Linked DNA regions of Homo sapiens. The protein of the gene in region 2 purifies or fractionates together with the protein of the main gene of each other region. This does not show direct contact. Each region holds a gene or a part of one and is shown on either strand. Other genes may lie near its edges.

Evidence for each region. Proteins that work in one complex are often made in the same cells at the same time.
Region 1: the proteins of ENPP7 (region 2) and RHEB purify together in Homo sapiens (affinity purification with mass spectrometry; one large-scale study listed by BioGRID and IntAct). This does not show direct contact.

The regions. Positions count from the first base shown.
Region 1 is NC_000007.14:151,513,396-151,516,895, reverse strand, and holds part of RHEB (GTP-binding protein Rheb), read left to right. Parts: intron 1-3,500. UniProt on the Homo sapiens protein: Small GTPase that acts as an allosteric activator of the canonical mTORC1 complex, an evolutionarily conserved central nutrient sensor that stimulates anabolic reactions and macromolecule biosynthesis to promote cellular biomass generation and growth.
Region 2 is NC_000017.11:79,733,943-79,737,442, reverse strand, and holds part of ENPP7 (ectonucleotide pyrophosphatase/phosphodiesterase family member 7 precursor), read right to left. Parts: intron 2,401-3,500; coding exon 1,774-2,400; intron 403-1,773; coding exon 183-402; intron 1-182. UniProt on the Homo sapiens protein: Choline-specific phosphodiesterase that hydrolyzes sphingomyelin releasing the ceramide and phosphocholine and therefore is involved in sphingomyelin digestion, ceramide formation, and fatty acid (FA) absorption in the gastrointestinal tract.

The sequences.
Region 1 (3,500 bases), on a different chromosome or scaffold from region 2:
AGAAATTTGAGTACCTGTGTTTCTAGATTGTGGTATTTTGTGATGCTGAGCTGTTTGTCCTATATTCTGGGGGTAGAGCCACATAAAAAGCCTCCACACCTTTCTTAGAATGTTCTCTTGATTAAATACATTAAGCCAGTTTGACTAGTAGGATACTTGTCATTGTGATTTGTCATGCCACAAACTTTATTTTTAAAGTTGTCTTCAGATAAAACAAAAAAGTGCTATGTTTGTTTAACTAGTTGGCTTTCTTTTTTTTTTTTTTTTTTTTTTGTGACAGAGTCTCACTCTATCACCCAGGCTGGAGTGCAGTGGCGGGATCTGGGCTCACTGCAACCTCTGCTGCCCAGGTTCAACCGATTCTCCTGCCTCAGCCTCCCAAGTAGCTGGGATAACAGGCGCCTGCCACCCCGCCCAGCTAATTTTTGTATTTTTAGTAGAGACTGGGTTTCACCATCTTGGCCAGGATGGTCTTGAACTCCTGACCTCGTGATCCACCTGCCTCGGCCTCCCTAAGTGCTGGGATTACAGGCATGAGTCACTGCACCCAGCCCACTACTTGGCTTTCCGTTTTCTTTTTTTCTTTTTTTTTGAGTGTTGTCAGAACTACCAATAGGTAAAATATAATTCTCAGGTAGTCTATACAATTCTCCCTGCCAGTCCCCTGTACTTTTCCTGGTATTTACAATGTTAAAGCTTTTAAGGACACGTCACCTATAACTCTGGGAGTCTGGCTTTCAGGGAGTGCTTTGTATTAACTGTTGCCGTGATGGCCAAAAGTACCAGCTCCCTGACATTCCGTTATTTCTACCACAACGGAGTAGTCCCGCGATAGGAAGTAACTCAACTTAAAATGGTAGTGTTACGTAAACTGTCTTCAGCCTGGTACATCTTTCACTGGGATTTTACCTGTACAGAGAGCTTTGGTAACCTAGTTTACCATTAGACCATAATTAAAAGCTGGTTGTCATATATAAGCCTCTTACATACAGTTAATAAGAGGGATGGGATCACAGGCATGTGAAAGATCATAGGGGGAAAATGAAACAGCTTTGTGGTTTGGAAGAAGGCAATTCAGCAAAAGTACTCAAATTATTACTTTGTCAAAATGTTTAGGTAGTATTTAGAGTCTTCATGAGGAAAGATGTCATTAAATATTTGGTTGTTCCCAGCAGATTCTGACTTACTGTTTATTTTTTAAGTTAACCTATCATTTGTTGACACTTTTTATTGAAAAATTGAAAGGCAAAACAATATTTGCTATGTATGACATCTACCAGTATGTGAAATTGTATATTCAGGTGCTTAATATTCTGATGTTGTATACTTGTGGGTGGGGGTAGTCCTGAAGTGCCCACTTTGTATTGAAACTTGAAATTACTGTTTTTCAGTCTCATTCATTGTTCTGCACAAGAGCATAATCAGAATTCAGATTTCTGATTATGGCTTTCCAGTGCCAAATGTTATTTTGCTGTCCATATGGGTTATATCTCTCTGTACTTCATCACCCCAAAAAGAAACTCTGTACTCATTAGCAGTCACTCTCCATCCTGCTTCCCTGTCAGCCCCTGGCAACCACTAATCTTTCTGTTTCTATGAATTTACTTACTCTGGACATTTCATATAAATAAGAACATACATATGTGGTCTTCTGGGGCTGGCGTCTTTTACTTAGTATAATGTTTTCAAGGTTCGTTCATGTTGTAGCATATGTCGCTTCTTCCTGTTTAGTGCTGACTAATATTCTGTCATGTGAGTATACCACATTTTTTCTATGCATTTGTCAATTGGATATGTGGGTGGTTTCTTTTCTTTCTTTTTTTTTTTGGCTATTATTTTTTATTTATTTACTTTTCTGAGGCAGGGTCTTGCTCTGTTGCCCAGGCTGGAGTGCAGTGGAGCTATCATGGCTCACTGCAGTGTCAACCTCCTGGACTCAAGTGATCCTCCTGCCTCAGCTTCCCGAGTAGCTAGGACTGCAGGTGTGCGCCATCACACCCAGCTAGTTTTTTTATTTTTTTGTAGAGGTGGGAACCTTGCTTTGTTGCCCAAGCTGGTCTTGAACTCTTGACCTCAAGCAATCCTCTGGTCTCAGTCTCCCAGTGTTGGGATTACAGGTGTGAGACACCACTTGGAGCTCTACTTTCTGGCTACTATGAATAATAATGTTTTGAACATTCCTGTACAAGCTTTTATGTAGACATGTTTTCATTTCTCTTGGGTACATTCCTAGGAGTGGAATTGCTGGGTCATTATGGTTAACTCTGTGCTTAATATTTTGAAGAACTGTCAGATTTTTTCCAGAACAGCTGCACAATTTTATATTCCCATCAGCAATGTATGAGGGTTTAATTTTCTCCACATTCTCGTCAACAATTGTTACACTGCCTTTTTCATTTTAGCCATCCTATTGGGTGTGAAGTGGTATCATAGGATTTGCAAATAATTTCTCCTGTCTGTGGGTTGTCCTTTTACCTTCTCGATGGTGTCCTTCAAAGCAGAAAGTTTTTAATTTGAAGGCCGATATATCTATTTTTCTCCTGCCACTTATGCTTTTGGTGTCACATCTTAGAAGCCATTGCCTAATCCAAGGTCATATAGATTTACTACTATATTTTCTTCTAGATATTTTATCCTGTTAACTCTTACATTAGATCTGTGATCTATTTGTGGTTAATATTTGTATATGATGTGAGGGAGGGATAGAACTTTATACTTTTGCATGTGGATATCAAGTTGCCCTAGCTTCTTTTGTTAAAATAATGTTCTTTCTTCATTGAATTCCCTTGTCCGAGATGAAGTGACCGTCAATAGAAGAACTCACTCATTCCATTGATCTGTATGTCTGTCCTGCCAGTACCATACGATCTTGATTACTGTAGTTTTGTAGCTGGTTTTTAAATAGGGGCATATGAGTCCTCTAACTTTATTATTTCTGAAGATGTTTTTGGGTATTCTCAGTCCCTTGCATTTCCATATTGAATTTTAGGACTAGATTGCCAGTTTCTGCCAAAAAAGCAACTGCAATTTTGATAAGGTGTTTCACGGTTTTGCAGGTATCTTTTAATGTCTTAACAGCTGGATTCTCATCTCTGCTCCTGAATTCATTCCCTTAACGTTATTTTAATGAAGTAAGGAGTACTTGAATAGTTTTTCAGGTAGTTGAATATTCTTTGATACCGAAACTTCATAAGTGATAGTTTGCAAAGAATAGTTACACTATGCAATCTGAAATCATATTGATGAATTTGCCCAACTCCGCAGGTCTGCTTTATACTTGGAATGGATCTTCTACCATGCCTGGTTTTGTAGCGTTACTGGTCATTTGGAAAATATTTGTTCATCGTTACGCAGATCTTCCACATGTTGACACATTTTATTATACAAGCATTTTTAAAAATCACATTTGTTAATATCACCACCAATCTCTGCAAAGTCTTAAGTTTTAGAACACTGTTCGCTATGAGTGGTGCAAGTTTTCCAAAATTCTAATTTCCTCC
Region 2 (3,500 bases):
CATGAGGTGCTCGTGAGAGGTCACGTGTTGTGGGAATGTGAGAGATTCTGGTGTTCTCCAAAGCCAGGGGAGGTGGCCCCACTTGGGGCTCAAGGGTGTCCTGGTCACAGGCATGCAGGCACCCTCGTGTGCACACGTGTACACACCAGAGCAGGCGGGGATTTGGGGCACCCTGCCCTCACCTGTGTGCAGCATGGGCAGCAGAGTAGCTAGGTGCCCATCGTTGGCCTCGGGCACGATGCCCAGCAGCCGGCACATGAGCTCGTACACGTGGACGCTCTCAAAGGGCTCCACCTCCAGGCCCGCCCTGAAGCTAGGGCCCACAGCGCGGAAGATGGTCTTCATGTCCATGTCCTTGTTGTCAAAGCCGTGCTCCCCATTGTTGAACTGGACGTTAATTCTCTGCCGGGGAGCGGGCAAGGGTCCTGGGTCCTTGCTGGGAGCAACAGACCCTCTCCGCCTACCCTATCCACCCTATGAACACCCCCTTAGGAAGGAGCACCAACGTGAGGGCTGGAGGGGTTCCAAGACTCAGTTTCCCCGAATTCTGAGCCTCCAAAGATCAGTCACCCTAAAGAGTGAAGTTCAGGGAAGGTCCAGTTAAATGAACGGAGACCAGACCCTGAGTAAATGGGAGTGGAGCGGGCAGCTCCAGGCTTCGGGGCCTGCCGCCTGTGCGGTGTTGAACGCTGCCTCCCATCGGTCACTTCCTTTCCGGGGATGTCTGCTCCCTAATCTGTGCTTCGCTTCCGGCTCAGCATCCCTGTGCTGTCTGCTGAGGGGAGGTTGGGCTCCTGACTCTTTCCTACCTCTTCCATGTCACCCTTGGGGCTGGACTTCTACACTTTACCCTGGACACGTAGGACGCACACACACACACACACACACACACACACACACACACACGCCTATCACACAGTGCCTGGTCATGATGGATACAGACGTGCACACACACTCCCACTGCCTGGTGCCTGAATGTGGAGGGCACACACAGATGTGCACACACCCTACCGCATAGTGAAGGAAGTGTCCCTTCGGTGCTGACACTCCTCAAACTGGGGACCAGCTAGAAACAGGAAGTGCCTCTATGGAGATGGAAGGAGAGGCCAGACGCAGTGGCTCACCCCTGTAATTCCAGCACTTTGGGAGGCCCAGGCAGGAGGATCGCTTCAGCCCAGGAGTTTGAGACCAGCCTGGCCAACATGCAAAACCCTGTCTCTACAAAAAAATACAAACATCAGCTGGGCACAGTGGCTCACACCTGAATCCCATAACTTTGGGAGGCTGAGGCGGGTGGATCGCCTGAGGCCAGAAGTTCGAGACCAGCCTGGCCAACATGGTGAAACTCTGTCTCCACTAAAAATACAAAAAATTAGTCAGGCATGGTGGCAGGCGCCTGTAATGCCTCAGAGGGCTGAGGCAGGAGAATCGCTTGAACCCAGGAGGTGGAGGATGCAGCGAGCCAAGATGGCACCATTACCCTCCAGCCTGGATGACAAGAGTGAAACTCTGTCTCAAATGAAACAAAACAAAACAAAACACACACAAAAATTAGCCAGGCATGGTGGTGTGCACCTGTGGTCTCAGCTACTCAGGAGGCTGAGGTGGAAGGATCGCTTGAGTCTGGGAGTTTAAGGCTGCAGTGAGCTGAGATCCTGCCATTGCACTCCAGCCTGGGCAACAGAGCAAGACCCTGGTCTCAAAAAAAAAAAAAGAAGACCCAGAGCCTGGGGAGGGAGCCCCTGGAGGTGGTGCCTCCAGCAGGCGACTCACCCCATGGATGACGTAGCCAAGGTCGCTGTACATCAGCAGGGGTGTGACCCTGGGGTTGTTGGCGTAGTGGAAGGCCTCGGGGAACGCCTCCTTCTTGTAGACGTGGAGCTTGGGGTGGGCGTCCTTGAGGGCATCGTACACCTTCTCCAGCCTCCCTTCTTTAGGGAGCAGCATCCCGTTTGGTCCGTAGTCCAGGAGCTCAAACTCGATGTCCCGGAAGGTGAAGTTGGGGAACTTGTGGAATTCAACCAGGTCGCCAGCCCGTTTGTCCACGGTCGTCATGCCGTGGTCGGATGTGATGATCAGGTTGAGGCGGTCTGTGAGGTGGTTGCGCGCGATGCTCTCCCGGAGGTAGCCCACGGTCCGGTCCACCTGCCGCACCATCTCCCTCCTCTCCGGGGACTCGGGGCCGTACCTGTGGCCCGTGGAGTCCGGCTCCCCGAAGTAGAGTGTGACCAGATCCAGGTCCTCCTCTGTGAACCACGCCATCACTGTGTCGATGTTCGCTCTCCACTCCGTCTCATTTTTGTAGTTGTGTGCGATGCCTTCTTTCCGGCTCCGCGTCACAGCCACCCCTTGGTAGGTGACGTTCCCGCCCGGGTAGAAGAAGGAGCCAGCCCTCAGGCCCTGCCAGACAAGGCAGCGTGAAAGACAGGACTCCTCAGTGGGCTGCCCCTTGTCTCATGCCTGTGAACACATTTGTCCCCCACGTGCCTACTTCTCTGTTCCACCCACCCATCCCTGCTCCTAGCTGCAGCTGCGGGGCCTTTAATTTCTAAAACATCCCTGATCTCATGTTCTATGGGGGTAAAACCTGATTTTATAGAGGAAACAACAGGTGCCCACTGGACTTGAGCACTAAACAAGACATCAGTATAAAGATGTTCCCAGAGGCCGGGCGCAGTGGGTCATGCCTGTAATCCCAGCACTTTGGGAGGCCAAGGCGGGTGGATCCCGAGGTCAGGAGATGGAGACCATCCTGGCTAGCACGGTGAAACCCTGTCTCTACTGAAAATACAAAAAAATTAGCCAGGCGTGGTGGCGGGCGCCTGTAGTCCCAGTTACTTGGGAGGCTGAGGCAGGAGAATAGTGTAAACCCGGGAGGCAGAGCTTGCAGTGAGCGGAGATGGCGCCACTGCACTCCAGCCTGGGCGACAGAGCGAGACTCCGTCTCAAAAAAAAAAAAAAAATGTTCCCAGATACGCAGTGTCTGCCTCATCACTGTCCATCCCACCTGCCCGTCCACTCCCCCAGGATATTCTTTCATTGGATCAAGAGCCTTGTGATGCCAGGGTCTCTACCTTGGCTTCCTGCTCACCAGCCGGTGGAAGGAGCCCTGAGTGTGTCTATGATCCTTCTGGAGTGAGGGAACCCCGGCTTGAGTGGATAACTTGGCTCTGGGGTGGGCATGGGCTCTGACATTTATTCCAGCGTCATCTTGGAAACCTCCACTGACTTTGTTTACTGGAAGCCTCGCCTCTGGGCCAGGAAGCCCCCAGAGCATTGCAAACTGGGGGTGGGTGGGGGGGTTCCTGGGTCAATACTGTAACCCACCTCTCATTTTGTCTTTGGCCCTTTAGAATTTAGCTGTTCAGCTGTGACAGGGATGTGGAAAGGGAGAAAGTCGTCTAATTGTTAAATGCTTTCTTGTTGAGTCACAGTGATCTTCCCTGTCCGACCCTCACCCCCAATGCTGCAGGGCCCAAGGGTGCAGTTCTCCCTCCGAC